Linked DNA regions of Homo sapiens. The protein of the gene in region 3 interacts with the protein of the main gene of each other region in a biochemical or structural test. Each region holds a gene or a part of one and is shown on either strand. Other genes may lie near its edges.

Evidence for each region.
Region 1: the proteins of DLG2 (region 3) and CLDN10 interact in a test that uses a peptide from one of them, tested with the Homo sapiens proteins (one large-scale study listed by IntAct).
Region 2: the proteins of DLG2 (region 3) and DUSP10 interact in a test that uses a peptide from one of them, tested with the Homo sapiens proteins (one large-scale study listed by IntAct).
Region 4: the proteins of DLG2 (region 3) and PRKCA interact in a test that uses a peptide from one of them, tested with the Homo sapiens proteins (one large-scale study listed by IntAct).

The regions. Positions count from the first base shown.
Region 1 is NC_000013.11:95,555,720-95,559,219, reverse strand, and holds part of CLDN10 (claudin-10), read right to left. Parts: exon of another isoform or gene 3,296-3,500; intron 1,722-3,295; exon of another isoform or gene 1,642-1,721; coding exon of another isoform or gene 1,596-1,641; intron 1-1,595. UniProt on the Homo sapiens protein: Forms paracellular channels: polymerizes in tight junction strands with cation- and anion-selective channels through the strands, conveying epithelial permeability in a process known as paracellular tight junction permeability.
Region 2 is NC_000001.11:221,700,924-221,704,089, forward strand, and holds the end of DUSP10 (dual specificity protein phosphatase 10), read right to left. Parts: intron 1,755-3,166; coding exon 1,489-1,754; 3' UTR 501-1,488; downstream 1-500. UniProt on the Homo sapiens protein: Protein phosphatase involved in the inactivation of MAP kinases. Has a specificity for the MAPK11/MAPK12/MAPK13/MAPK14 subfamily. It preferably dephosphorylates p38.
Region 3 is NC_000011.10:83,467,651-83,473,002, reverse strand, and holds part of DLG2 (disks large homolog 2), read left to right. Parts: intron 1-225; coding exon 226-276; intron 277-1,275; coding exon 1,276-1,377; intron 1,378-3,629; coding exon 3,630-3,802; intron 3,803-5,352. UniProt on the Homo sapiens protein: Required for perception of chronic pain through NMDA receptor signaling. Regulates surface expression of NMDA receptors in dorsal horn neurons of the spinal cord.
Region 4 is NC_000017.11:66,683,613-66,687,112, forward strand, and holds part of PRKCA (protein kinase C alpha type), read left to right. Parts: intron 1-3,498; coding exon 3,499-3,500. UniProt on the Homo sapiens protein: Calcium-activated, phospholipid- and diacylglycerol (DAG)-dependent serine/threonine-protein kinase that is involved in positive and negative regulation of cell proliferation, apoptosis, differentiation, migration and adhesion, tumorigenesis, cardiac hypertrophy, angiogenesis, platelet function and inflammation, by directly phosphorylating targets such as RAF1, BCL2, CSPG4, TNNT2/CTNT, or activating signaling cascade involving MAPK1/3 (ERK1/2) and RAP1GAP.

The sequences.
Region 1 (3,500 bases), on a different chromosome or scaffold from region 3:
TTTCAGCCTGAAACAATGCCATATTTCGATCTAAAATAGTGATAGTAGCACATACCGGGTGTAAGTAAGTATCTGCTAAGCAAATAAACATATATACCTACATCAGGTTTACGTTTGGAATTAAACTTTTTAACTGGAAAAAACCTCTTATGTGTCAATATATGATAAGTCATTTATTATTGGTGTTCAAGCAGAGCCATGATAAATAATAATTCCGAGACCATGATAATCATGAATTTAGGGAGTACATACTAGTGGCCTCCAGTTCAGTTTCTTTTTTTCTTTTCTTTTTTTAACACAGGATCTCACTTTTGCCACCCAGGCTGGAGGGAAGTGGCATAATCATAGCTCACTGCAGCCTCAAATTCCTGGGTTCAAGAGATCCTCCTGCCTTAGCCTTCTGAGTAGCTGAAACCATAGGCGCTTGCCCCCACCTATGGCTAATTTTTAAATTTTTATAGAGACAGTGTCTCGCTGTAATGCCCAGATTAGTCTCGAATTCCTGGCCTCAAGCGATCCTCTTGCCTTGGCCTCCCAAAATGCTGGGCTTAAAGGCATGAGCCACTGCACCTGGCCCCAGTCTGTGTTTCTTTGGAAAAGAATGAAATTGAAGTTTTAATCCTATTCCTTGGACCCATTTTTGAAGAGCAAACAGGAGCTGCTCTACTTAATTGTAAACACTTTAGACTCCCACAAATGCAGACTGCAAGGACAGTGACCTTCCATTGTGTAGTGTGAAATATTTCCATACAGAAAACAATTTCACTAACACCGTGGCTATCAAAAACAGCAAAACAAACTTATTTTTAGCAAAACAGGATAATGAAGGCTTCTTTCATAGCAATCATTGTGCTGCAGGGCTATCTGGGTCTCCGCTGCCAAATGCTGAACCAGCTGTATTTTAAACTTCAGTCCTCGAGCTCCCCAGCCAGAGCCCAGACAGCAGGTAGAGGCAAGACAGAGAGGGGAAGCCTGTCAGTCCCTTGCAAGTTTGAAGAGAGCCTGTGAGGATAACCCAAACTGGTTCATCACTTGCCACCAGGGCTACTCGGACAGTGTGGTTTCGCTCTTTTTGTGAAATTCATTTTAATCTATGGTTTTGAGGTTTTATAGCTGACTCTGACTGCAGTCATTAAATAAACAAAAAAATGGGGGACTCATCCATTTATATATACTCCCAGAAAACATTAGCATGTACCCTAATTTGCATTGCCTTTAGTTACTTCCATGCTTTGTTAACAGAAAGTGCAAGTTGTCGGGAATTTACCAAAGGTTAAATTCTACAATCTGGTCATTTAGAACGCGGAATGCATTTCCCAGATGATAAACAGTGGGTAGAATCCCAGGCCAACCCATTCGATTCTTAATACAACAGGGAAAATAACAGTAGTCTTTGAACTTTATGTAATCACCACTGATAACATTTTTCCCGAGTTTCTCACTCTGAGATGCCCCGTCCCAGCCCTGGTATTGGCAGCAGGACCCACTTTGGTCTCTTGACACAAGCATGAGAGGAGAAGTGGGCAGGGCAGATTCTGATCTGGTCAGGTCCTTCTTTTGTGCCAACCAGAACCCGGATTTGGAAAATGAGGTACCTTTCTCCAGCATGAACAGCAGCCATAACTTGTTAATTTTGCGCATGCACAAAGAAGGCAATTTACAAGGACGATCATTGGCCAGATTTTCTGAAATGGAGAGCAAAGAGCAGGGGATAAACTCCCCTGCCAGCCATAAATGTAATGGAGTTGCTCGTAAGCCTGAGATTTGTAAATTCTCAGTGTTCTAAGGCTACCAGTCCTTACAACACCCACAGATTGGAGCCAAGATGATTCCAACAAACCCTTTCAGAGTTCATCTTTTGCAAAGCAGACCTCTACAGCCTTGCTTTCTAACAGTTCCTGAGGGCAAAACTTACAAGTAACACCACCAGGAGAAGTGTTAGTAAAAACCTAGTCAAGGAGGCCATTATTTTTGACAGGTCTAATTTACTGACACTGTTAATAGCTAATTAACACATTAAGGTGCTGAGGCATGAACATATTTATTTAGAAGTTCTCTGAAGTATAATTTATAGTTAGTTCTCCTGGGAGAAATGGCAAGCATTCCCACTAGCAAAAATAGATGGCATACACTAAAAACAAGCTGGCTGAAAATCATACTCAGCTGAAGTTCAAGTGGTACTTTGAAAGGAGTATGGGTTAACAATAAACAGAAATCACAAGCTCATTCAGCTGTGAAATTTTCAAATAGTAAAATACAGTGACTTTAAATTAATGAACTCTGTTGGAGGAAAGCTTCAAGGTGTTCCTTAAAAGTTAAGTGTTTTCCAAATTATGTGTACTTTATTTTCAATTGCAAATCAGCAAAAAACGAAAACATCCACTTGGTGGAGACAATTCGCTAATAGCACCTGTGCTAGTTGATGGATTTAGGGGGGAAAAAAGAATGTGCTTTTCTTTTCCTGGTAGCTTTGTGTACTTCTGCAAATCCTTTGAGAGAACAGTGGTATGGGGAGGGCAGGAACTCTGAGTTTCACCTCTGGTGCTTCTATTTACCCAAGGTATGTACTTGGTTATAGGACCTAATCTCTTTGAGGCTCAGTTCTCTCATCTGTAAAACAGGGATGGCAGCACCTCCTTCACAGGATGAATAATATGGATGTCTGCTGAGCAGTAAGAAAGTCATCAAAGCATCCCGTCATATTATAATACTACAATGGATTCTAAGCAGAAATTAGAGCTGGGTTCTTAATATGGCATAACGTTAAATCTAGACATATAGCTTTGCTAGGCCTCATTTTTCTTATAAGGAAAACAAGTGGCAATGATACCCCTAGGGGAGGGGAATCAGAGATTTCTTTATATAAGAAATTTAGGGCTGGGCGCATGGCTCATGCCTGTAATCCCAGCACTTTGAGAGGCAGAGGCGGGCAGATCACTTGAGGTCAGGAGTTCAAGACCAGCCTGGCCAACATGGTGAAACCCTGTCTCTACTAAAAATACAAAAATCAGCCAGGTGTGGCAGTGGGTGCCTGTAATCCCAGCTACTCAGGAGGCTGAGGCAGGAGAATTGCTTGAACCCGGGAGGTGGAAGTTGCAGTGAGCAGAGATCATGCCATGGCACTCTGTCCTGGGGGACAGAGTGAAACTTTGTCTCAAAAAAAAAAAGAAAAGAAATTCAGAATAATGACCTCGTCGTTTGACTCCAAGAGTTCTTCTACCTAACACAAGATAGGCAAGAGTCACGAGCCTTCTCTCTCCCTTCCTGGATTCTCTTCCCAATCTAGAGCTCATACCTGGGTTTAAGGGGAGGGCTGTTCCACTCAGGCCACCATGGCCACTTTCTCCAAAGGCAATGTCAGGACCAGCACCCACCAGATGTGGCTGACCTGGGAATGCAAGGTAGAGGACAAACAGAGGGCCCCTACCCTGGAAGCTTCCACTTGCAGGTGGGGGAATCAACTCCCCTCCACAGGAAAACACAGTTGCATGATTTAACCC
Region 2 (3,166 bases), on a different chromosome or scaffold from region 3:
GCTGCAACGCATTACATGGTTAATGTCACCAAAGATGCCAAGTGAGCAAGTGACAATGGGGTGGGGGGGTGGGGGGAGGAACATCAAGATCCCTAAATGGAAGATTGTCCTAAGTATTTATCAAATAGCCACTAGGGAGATCACTGAATTCTCACCAATCAATCTGGCAGGGATTTGGTCACCAAGGCGCAAAGGCAGATGGGATCCCCTTAATGCAAGCCTTCCCCGATGCAAAAGGAATGATATTTGCAGGAGAGGATGACAGCATTGTGAGAATATAAGGGACAGTGACTGGGCAGATCAATACTGGAGCTCTTCCACTTCCTTGCTAACTCTGTTTCACAGTGAGAAAACTGGATATGTTCCCTTCCTCATCTCTCTTTCCCTATATAAAAATCTGTTTTATTTCAACTTTGTTGTATATGCAAGTTACCAGAGCTTAAGAAAGGCTTGAACCTGAGTTAAGGTAAAAGAGAGGGGAAAAAAAGACACATCCTAAACCAGTTTCATTTATATAATGAAAATAAATTTTTACACAATCAACAGAAACACACCAAGATTTTTTTTTTTTTTGCGAAAAATATTTTTAAATAAATTTTTTTTTCTTACATTCTGATATACATATGTAACAAGGTTTATGGCACTGTAACCAGAATCAAATCAGAAAAAAAAAAAAAAAAGGAAAAAGGTGGGAAGGAAAGTATTTGATATATTGTTGAATTCCTTTCTATCTCCAAGCTGGCAAATTTGCACTATTTGTCTATCATTCAGCTGCCAGCTCTAACTTGTTTGCACACTTAAAACATCATATTATTGCACAAGAAGCCAGTGAAGGCATATAATGGTCAGTTCCTCACTATTTCAAAAAAAATCTCTTAAACCCAGAGAAGGAAAAAAAAAAAAAATCCAGAGCATGAAACACACAAAATCAAAGGTATCCTTTTTCTCCTTAAAGAATGCCTGAAGGATTCTTAGACCACTTAAGCTGCCCTGATCTTCTCTTTGCACCAGTGAGCACAACAGGGCTTGGTTTGGTTGGGTTTTTGTTTTCTGTGTGGACAGCCCAGGTTGATCCCAGGCCTTGGTGATTCAATGTCTTTTCTATTTACTTTTGGTTCTTTTTAATTGGTTTAAAGTGTGTAGTATCTTCGGTCTATGAACCTGCACAGACTATTTAGTCATAAACTCTACAAATAGCTTAAAAGGAAAAGGGGGAGAAACAAGTTGTATTATATTTTTATTGTTGGCTTAAAAAAATTACTTCTTTAACCTCCTTAATTTGTCAGTTTGTGGGAGGTGAATCTCAATGGCATCAAAAGTTATAGTCTTCTTACACTTGTTAAAAATAAAGTGTTTAAACAAGTTTGTTTCCATTCACAAACTTACTCCCAACTACAAAAAAAAAAAGAAAGAAAAAAAACCAGAATCCATCCTCCTTCCTCATTGTCTCCTAATGGAGAGCAGCAATCCTTTCCATCCAGACCATTGTCACACAACCGTCTCCACGCCCATCAGCTTTGGTGTAAGGATTCTCGGTGTCACACCGTTGTTTAGGTCTTCCTCGAACTCTAGCAACTGCCCCATGAAGTTAAGGTTTGGGGAGATAATTGGTCGTTTGCCTTTGACAAATTTATAAGCATCAGTCATGGTCATCCGAGTGTGCTTCATCAAGTAAGCGATGACGATGGTGGCGGAGCGGGACACCCCAGCCTGGCAGTGGATGAGAAGCCCCTTCCCACACTGGTGAGCTTCCTCTGAAAAAAGGGAGAAAGACAAGAGATGAAGGGAAGATGGAAGAGAGAGGCACGGAGAGAGAAACTTTCATCTCAACTTTGCAATGCCTTATTTTGTATAGAAATAATGAATTAAAACAGTTTTAAAGCCAAGTATAATCCACTAGTTCATTACGTATACTTATGTCACAACTTCCAGAACTGGCTAAAGTTGATATCAGCACGAACAAGAAGCTATACATCTACATTTAAAGAGAAGATTAAATGAAAGAATTGCTCATAGGAACAGTTTGCTGCACAGGTGACAGCAGTGGCCGGAAGCCAGACCTATAACACAGTTAACTTTCACGTTGAACAAGCTACTGATCAAGTCGACTCTAACAGTCACTGAACCTTCTCTCAAATGTCTTGTTCTCTTTTTTTCTGGAATTACACTACTGAAAGAAAAAAAAAGAATGAAGGAAAAGGAGAGAGGAAGGGGAAAAATTATACACACACATGAAAATATACACTCACACATATATATGTATATGTATGTGTGTGTATGTGTGTGTGTGTGTGTGTATATATATATATATGCAGTTCCTCTTTGGATTAAGGATGTTAATTCCAATTTTCGGTTGTGTGACTTAACAAACCTAGTGCTAGTAACAACTCTCTCACTTGTAATAGAGAAAAAACACTTTCTTTATTCTATAGAATTGCTCTGTACAGGAACGGGCATTAAATGGATAAGAGTTTTAGTCTTACTAAACCCTGATTAAGGTTAAAGGAATAAAGCTTAACTAGGAAGATACTATGTTCAGCTTCTCCCCAGAAAATCCAGTTGTTGCAAAGTTAACTAAAGGCTAGTAGTATACAGGCCGAGGGTGTCACCTCTCAAGCATTCAATCCCGTTTGCTTCCATGTATGACATTCCAGTGTGGCAATAATGCAGAAGATGGAGGAATCCCAGCAATGGCTCAAAATCCAGAGCAATTGAAAGAGGAAGACTTGCTAAGTTTTCAAATATATTAAAAGCTCAGGACAATAGCATGTGGGCACTACCTGAACAGATTCTTAATGACATTTCTAGACTCTAACACATCCCTAAGAAAGCTTCCTTGAAGGAACACCAATTAGATAAACAGGTAGGGAAGGAGAAGGGGTAGAGAGAGTAGTGATTTCACCTAAACTACATCTACTGGCTACCCACCAGTGGACCAAGGAAAAAAAACCTGATGTAAATTTTCATCTTAAAAATTTACAGATGAAGTTTACTTCTCATAGTCAACAGTATTTCAAGAAAAGTAAGCATCTCTCTTTTTCAACTTTTTCCCTTCAGCACACGGTATTTAGCTCCAAGTCAAGACCAGAAAGCATGGTGGTGAGAGAATGAGCTTCTGAGTGCCTGGCTGGACCACCGGTTCCACTACACACACTTGATTCAGGAA
Region 3 (5,352 bases):
AATAGCTAGCAACCAGTTATTACTTAGAGTTATGACTGTGAAAATCTGATACTAAAATGGTGCTAAAGAGTTTTATGAGGATGAAGTTATTTTTGAATGGTTCAAGGAGAAAGAGCAAGGAGAATTAACTCTGAGCTGTGTCTGTTTCCTGTGTTTCAGAGCAGGGCTTGTCTCTGTAATATATGACTGTTAGTTCACTGTGGTTTTCTTTCCTTCTCTTCTCAGGAGGACAAGAAGACCTCATTCTTTCCTATGAGCCTGTTACAAGGCAGGAAAGTAAGTTTCCCAGCACGCTTTCATTCCTAATTTCTGGGCCATAAGAGGTGACATCATTGAAGGAGGGAAAGAGTGAAGGACTAAGGAGAATAAACTCGGCTTAATGCTCTGTTGTCTTGAGACCGTACCTTACTCTTACGCTGTCTCTCACTTTCTCTCTCTTTGACCCTATCACCAAACAGACAACTTCCTGCTGAGTATGGGCACTAATAGCACCTAAGAGAAGGATGCAGCCCTCCAGATGAGTGGTCCTCAATGGGAAGGAACACATTCAAATTACCTAAAGAGCACTAGCTACGAGACTGGTGAATAAATTCTCCTGAGAGACTGATGTCAGCTCAGTATTGAGAATGACTTTCTAGCAGATCTGCCTAAGATGTAGGCTATCTGTAAGCTGCTGCTTTTTCCTGGAGGCATTTATACAGAGGCTAATTGCTACTGACAAGGATACTGCAGAGAGAATTCAAGCATCAGATGGGGACTTGTACCCAATGAACTCTCAGGTTCCTTCTAATCCCAGATACAAGGAAATCTAGAAACTGTAGCAAAGTATAGAGAGTATTTTGATCTGGGGAAAAGAAATCATGAAAACATAAGATGTTATTACTACTAACAATTACTTTTTATAGTCATATCTAAACAATAGCCAAACAGCTGGTTTGGATTCTTTTTTCTCCCACTCAGTTGACTAAATTCAGTTGTTTTGACATTATGTAGGCAGAGCCAGAGAGTAAGCAAAACTCCTCCAAATGTTTCTTTTCATCAACAGATACTGCAATTGCCTTTCCCTGCTAGTAGATTCCAGAAAGTAGGCACTGCCAATCTCCTGAGTGTTAAACATCAATTTCCCTATGCAAGGCTGTATGAGTAATTTATCCAGTGAAGTAATGCCCTTAGCATCTCTTACTGTCTGGCAATTAAGAATCACCCTTGCAGGACAGTTTTGCAGTTGTTTCCAACTCTTTCTCTTTACCTACATCTTCCTTTCCCATTCTGCAGTAAACTACACCCGGCCGGTGATTATCCTGGGGCCCATGAAGGATCGGATCAATGACGACTTGATATCTGAATTCCCTGATAAATTTGGCTCCTGTGTGCCTCGTAAGTGTCATTTTTCTTTCCTCTAGGAAAAACAAAAAGAGCTTGGATTTCTTTATGAGATGGTAAAATGTAATTCCATCCTCCAGTAGTCTCTCCAGTAATTCAAATACCAACCATTTCCGATTAGCTGAGTGCCTTATTTAATTTATTTGCCTAACACTTTTCATTTATGCTGCCGTGTGTCATTCTGTATTTAATAAAAATAATAATGTTTTCTCTAAACTGATTGTAGCCCCTTAAAAGGCAGGATGAATTTTTGTGGCCCCCAACCATTTAAAACAGCATAGGATTTATGATAGGCATCAGTATGTTTTCATAGATTGATCAAAATGCCACTGAAACATTATTTTTTATAGGATGGAAGAGATCGGAAACAAAGCCATATATTAAAATCCTCTCAGGATGACTTAGGGCCATATGTCAATCCCAAAACCCAATAGGCTTTCCCATGTTGACAGTCCCAGGTTTAGGGAGGGTGAAGACAAGAAAATGTGTAACACTTCAATTTGACCTCTAGGCCATTACAGACTTTAAACTACTTTCTTCTCATTATAGATTATCATCAGGCTTCTGGTCCCTCTGATTGTAGCCTTATTAGATTCTAACTGCTCTGCCTCTTCCCCTCCCCACCCCTACCATACTTTCTCCACTCATTCACCCCGTCTACACCCCGACTCTGTCAAACAGAAATGCATGCAGACCTTCTACGTATGTAGACAGGTCCATCAGGAAATTTTAATTTATTAGATAATGGAGCTCTTACATCTGATACCAACAAATATTTCTCTTCCATTCTATGTGTTTTAAGCCTGATGCTTTCAAGTGTCTCTAACATTCCAGTACTGCAAATTTTACATGAGATACTTAAGAATAGCAGGAATTGTATGTGTCCAGTACATGGCCAAAAGACTAGGATGATTGCTGTATCTCATGAAACAATTCCCAGCAAGGGCTCTGGGAAGAGATCCTGCCATAGAACATATCCTGAGAAAGTCTTCAGACAGGAAGGAGCAAATGAAACTCCAGGTCGTTTACAGCAAGCTTCCAGCTTGCTCCTCCACTTTTGAGAGAAAGAAAACAGAAGGTACTTAAGCATTCTTTCTGCTTTCCCTTTCACCTTGCATATTCTCTCTTTTTTGAATTAATAGAACCATTTTGTGATAGTCAATAGATGTTCATTGTACAAAACTTCAAAAACACTAAAAAGAAAGTTAAACGAGAAAATTAGAAGTATACAAAATCCCACACAATACCCAGAGATAACATCATTGTTAATATTTTTGTACATTTCCATCTATTCTTTCTATGCATGCATTTTTTCTCTGTGATGATTTTTTTGCTTATTTAAAATTTTATATAACTATTTCAAATGATTATTATATCCCAATTAATCATTCTTTATGAACATTTTGGTTTTTCCCTATTTTTCACTATTATGAATTGTGACAAAAATATCATCGTAATTGTGTTATAATTATTACTTATAAAATAATATAATGAATATCTTTAAGGATAAATCTGTATCTGAAGTTTTGATCATTTTTAAAAACATATTTCTAGGAAAAAATAAGTGAGTCAAAGATTAAAAATATTTTAACAGCTTTTATTCATATTGCTAGATTGCTTTCCCCTTCTCTTCTTACCAAAAAATTTAGGTGAAATGGTTAGAGTTGCTGATTTTTAGTCCTATCTAACTGTGATTATCTTATTTTATATATGTTGAGAGTCTGAATTTTATGGTCCTTTATAGAATGTTAAGTTTTTGTTCTGACAGGTGATAATTTACTGACACAGCAGCTTCTTCCATTTGTGACATGGTTTTAGACTTTGTGAAGATGGGTGTAGAGTAAGTCTAGAGTAACCTTTTAAAATGTGGCCTTTCTGGGATCTCCATGGGTTCTGACTCAACTCCCGTGTCTTCTAGCACCATGTGATGTCTAAACTCTCCATTTGGAAATGGCCTCTAGGTAGAGAGGTGGGGTGAATGCTCTCTCATATGTTTCTCTTTTCTCAAAGATTACAGCCCTGTACTTCCTGTTGTCTGATATCTGAAAACAGTTGTTTCATATATTTTGTCCAGTTTTTTAGTTGCTTATGGTGGGAGGGTAAGACTAGTACCTGTTACTATGTCATATTTCTTCATACTACATATTTCTACATATCAATGTTGAGGATGTGGTGGAGAATATAGGTGTAAAGCAAGTTTATGGGTATAAATGCACCTTAATTTTATCATTTTTTGTTTTATAAAGATACTACGAGGCCAAAGCGAGACTACGAGGTGGATGGCAGAGACTATCACTTTGTCATTTCCAGAGAACAAATGGAGAAAGATATCCAAGAGCACAAGTTTATAGAAGCCGGCCAGTACAATGACAATTTATATGGAACCAGTGTGCAGTCTGTGAGATTTGTAGCAGAAAGAGTATGTTCACCAATCTTCTTACACCTCCCCTGAAGAAGGTTTCTAGGTTGCAAACTGCATTTTTTTTTTTTTTTGGTCATTACTCTTTCTTGATTGCAATTGTAAATTTTGATTTAATAATTTAAAACATCCAAGCAGAGAATCACCTTAGAGCAATGTCATTAATCTTTGTTCTAATTTCAATAAAGTATTCTCACTGACTTGGAAAAAGTAGGAAGAGGGCTTTGTCTTTGACTCACTATCTGAGGCCCCAATACACAACCTTGATTTTATTAAGGCAGGTTTACTACTTTAGTTGTAAACCAAGGGGATAGCATTCCTGAATTATTTTGTTAGAGGAAGTTATTTTTTTTCTCTCTCTCTGAAAACTTGACATCCTCATGGTAGAAGAGAAGATAGATGAGAAGGGCTGCCCAGCCTTTTGCTCGCAGAAGTTCTAGCTTAGAGGAGGTGTAGATGCTGCTATTATCTTTTTGCTGGTAACTTCAGGGGCATGGAAAAGAGAAGAATGTTCAAGAGAGGGTACCATAGGAAGGCACCTGGGTGTGGCTACACAATCTGCCTACAGAGGGATCCTATTTCCTGTGAACACAGAGAACCAGTATCATAGGAGAAGATATTTGTTGGGTTGATTTGATTTGCCATGACCTTTCTCAATGTACCGCTAAAGAATTAAGTAATTTTGATGTCTATCTAAGAATACACTAAGAAGTTGCATCTATTTTCCTCCCTCTCAAAAGTTCAGTTCTATCAACTAAATGAATACTGGTTCTAGTCAAACTGTCCTGGATAATTGCACCTATTTTCCTCTTTGTTCATGTTGTTAACTTGAAATGTTCTGACTGGTGAATAATCAACCAGCATTTATACATGTTATGTGGCTGCTGCACTTCACAGATAGAAAACTTGAAATCTATTACCTAAGTAATAACGGCTTGAACCATCTTAGTGGGTTTCTCAGATAAGAAGACTTCAAGTATTCACTGGACTGTATTCATTTTCATGTGAACATTATAGATGAGATTTTAGCCCTTATTATTGATTTAGTATTGTTCCTATCTGCATAAAGTGCCTTTTTTCTCTTCTTGCATAAAGTTATTCTAGCCTCAGGGTAATGAGGACATTTCTCTCCAGGAGGTAGAATATGATGTGGCAAATGTATCTGCATATCCAGAAATGCTTTATAAAGCAGCTGCTTGCTCTGAGCACTCATTGTGGTGGAAGCCAAGTTAAATGAGGTGTGCTATAATGTAATAGCATTTTTATTTGTTAACAAACAAGAAATTTACATACCTCATGCAAGCCTTTCTCTCTTGGCATTTAACCCGCATTTAATTTATATATATATATATATATATGTTTTAATTATATATTTTATATGTGTGTGTGTATATATATATATATATATATATATATATATATATATATACATATAGTTTTTATTTTTTTTGAGATGGCATTTCACTCTTATTGCCCAGGCTGGAATGCCATGGCACGGTCTCAGCTCACTGCAACCTCCACCTCCTGGGTTCAAGTGATTCTCCTGCCTC
Region 4 (3,500 bases), on a different chromosome or scaffold from region 3:
TCGGGGGGATAGAGTCTCACTGTGTCACCCAGGCTGGAGTGCAGTGGCATGATCTCAGCTCACTGCAGCCTCCGCCTCCTGGGTTCAAGCGATTCTCGTGCCTCAGTCTCCTGAGTATCTGGGATTACAGGTGCCCACCAGCACGCCCGGCTTCTTTTTGTATTTTTAGTAGAAATGGGGTTTCACCATGTTGGCCAGACTGGTCTCAAACTCCCAACATCATGTGATCCACCTGCCTCAGCCTCCCAAAGTGTTGGGATTTGACTCCACATCTTGATCACATCTTTCCCTTGTTTCTCTCTTCTGTCTCTAGCCCTTGTTCTCATCCGCTTCCCCACTTCAATTTTCCTCTTATTTTCTCTTTCCTAGCTTCCCCAGCTTCCCCTCTTCCATCTTCCTTACAACTATTCCTATGAGTAATGCCCCCTAGCATTGCCTCTTAGCCTGACATTCTTGAAACCATACAGTTGAAACCCTGTTAGAACATTACCACACTGTACTGTTTTCCCCGGCATTTGCTTACCACTCCGTAAGCTGTTGGTGCAGTTTCTGCACATCTAAGATTGTTCTCCACCAGTAACTTGTATTAAGAGCAATTATGATCATCACTATTGTGCTCTCACCGAGTGCCTATCACTGCTCTAAGCACTTTACATGGATGAGCCTACATAATCCTTGCTTGAAGGAGATATAATTTTCCAGATGAGGAAACTTAGGAAGATAAAATAGCTTGTCCACAACCACAGAGTGGCAGAGCCAGAATTCAAATGCAGGCAGCCTTGCCCCAGATCCTACACTCTGAGCAGATGGGACCCTAAGTTAGTTGCTCGTAATCCTGATTCAGGTGTCCTGGCATGCCATGAGTCACACTCACACAGGCTGTTCTCTGCTGTGATAAGAAATTGAAATTTGGACCCACTATTTGCTTCAATGACATTTAGAATTGATAACTCTTTTTATTTTCAACTTAAATGGTAGTATCTCAGTAGGACACTCACAGCTTTAAATCCCATCAAGATTTTAACTCATCACCATTCCGAAGAGATCTTACTTAAATGATTTTTTTTGTGTGTGTTGTCTGTCAGGAATATAAATTGAAGATATAAAAGCCAGCACCCGCAATAATTCTGCAACTGGTAGGAGGCAACCCAGGACCTCTTGGTGACCTTAATAAGGGTCTTCTTTGGCTTATCCAGGATGTGACCTTCTGCAGCCTCCAGTATTAGACATTCCAGGGCATTTTCTGCCTTTTAAAAAGCATCTGATTCTCATTCTGGTGTTTAATCAGAGAGAGACCGTTGGCCTCTTTCCATTCCTCATGGGAGAGCTCCATTTTTGTGCTCACATTTTTCATCTTTGGTGATACTCAGGGTTGATGTTTTAGTGGGCTAGACTTTCTGCATTGGATTAAAACCTTTCACATGAGCTTGGTGAATTCTCCAGTGACCAAGTCCCCTGGGGGCCTCCAACCCTATAGATTCCAGCATGATAAGAGTGGAAAGGAGTCCGGAACATCATGCCTGGGGTATAGTGAGCACTCACACCATGGATTTATTTTTTCATTTTCCAAGCCCCCAACCATGTAAGGTATTTTATAAACATTATTTTATTTGATTCTCCCAACAATTCTATACCACTGGAATTATGTCCGTCTTCATTTTTCTAGATGAAGAGACAGAGGCTCAGAGACTAAGCTTCCCAGTGCTCAGGGTTACATGGTGAAGGAGGCAGAGTTTGCATGTACACCTGCTGAGCCACAGGGACCATGCCTATGTGTTTTATTTGTGTGCTATCTGCTCCCTGAGATGAATGAGGTTAGATATTTTCTTAGGAGAAGAAATACTTGGAAGGCACAAATGGGGTATGACAAACTATGTTCAGCTTCTCTGTGGCTAGCAGACCTGAGCTAGCCCCCTCCCCCTCTGTATTTGAATATAGTCCCATCTGTTACCTACCTATGTAAGGCTTCCAGGTAAGGAGGATGTAAGGCTGTTGGCTGGCAGGAGGCAGAACACAGTAGATCCACAGACTAGTAAAGGCAATGCCTGTCTCTGACTTCCGATCTTAGGGCTGTACCTCCCTCATTTGTGTCCAAAGACCCAACATCTTTAGGGTTCTCCCCCTGCCTCCTCCCCATCTAACCCTGCCCACTGACAACTCCAGTGCCTTCTTCTCAAGTTCTTCTGTAATTCTTAATTTAATAATCAAACTATGCTGATAAACTATGCTAATTGCCTAGATCTGTGGTTCTGCAACTTTTATGGACATCAGAATCACCTGGAGGCTTGGTAAACACAGATCATTGGACCTCACCCCAGAGTTCTGATTCAGGAGGTGTTGCCAGTGCCGCCGGTCCAGGGACCACACTGTGGGAACCACTGAATCAGGGAGCCTGGTCCCAGTTATATGTGTGTTGATGGTGTCTGACCAGTTGGGTATCTGATAATTCAGCCTTACTGGGAAAGATGCCATGGGAAGATAGGAAGGCATTTGAGATAGGAGACTCAGGCTTTTGTCCCTTCATCATAGCAGTAGATAATTATCTTTTACGTTGACGTGCAGTGGCTTTAGACAGCTTCTCATGGTTGTGAGCCTCTGCCAGCTCTTAAATCTTTGAGCCTGTTTTCCTCTGTGGATGAAATGGCCTTTCCTTCTAATTATTTTTGATTCCCATATCAGGTTTCTCAAGCTAAGATTGCATTGGAAGCACCTGGAGGTCTTGTTAAAGTGAGGATTCTGAGTTATTAAGTCTGAGGTGGGACCCAAGGTTCTGCATGTCTAATGAGCTCCCAGGTGATATAGATGCTGCCGGTCCATGGACCAGCAATTCTGAGTTACAACTGTATACAGCAGTGGTGCTTGCCCCTGCTGCCCAGTAGAATCACCCAAGGAGCTTTTAAAAACGAATACTTGAGCCACATTCCTTGGAGATTCTAGTTTAATTCTGGGGATTAGAATTTTTAACTCCCCCATTCCCCAACCCCCATGTGATTCCAATGTACAGTCAGAGTTGGAAGCCATTGGCCTTTACCCACAAAAAGGGATAACACCTTCTGGGAGCTCAGGTGCGTGTGTGGCACCATAGACCAGGTTGGGCTGGTCGCTTCCATGCAGGGAGGGTGCACCATTACTCCTGGGGAGCTGCAAAGGTCACCTGGGAATCTTGTTAAATTACAGATTCTGCTTTGGCAGGTTTGGGGTGGGACCTGGGTTTCTGCATTTCTAATAGATATCTTAGTGTTGCTGATGCTGCCAGTCCAGGCTGGTGCTAAGTCCCAAGACCCACCCACAAGGGCCCACACGATGCCCATTATCTCTGCCGGTGGTGGCAGCGGGTAGCTTTTCTCATGTCGAGTGTTAGAGGCTTTTGGCTTCCACCATCTGTCTCCTTAAACGCCATTCTGACGTCTCTTTTATTCAGCTTGGTATTGACACAAGACAGCGGGCAATATAGGTCTGTTCTCTTTTTGTAATATTTTCTTCCTTCTCTCTTCACAGTA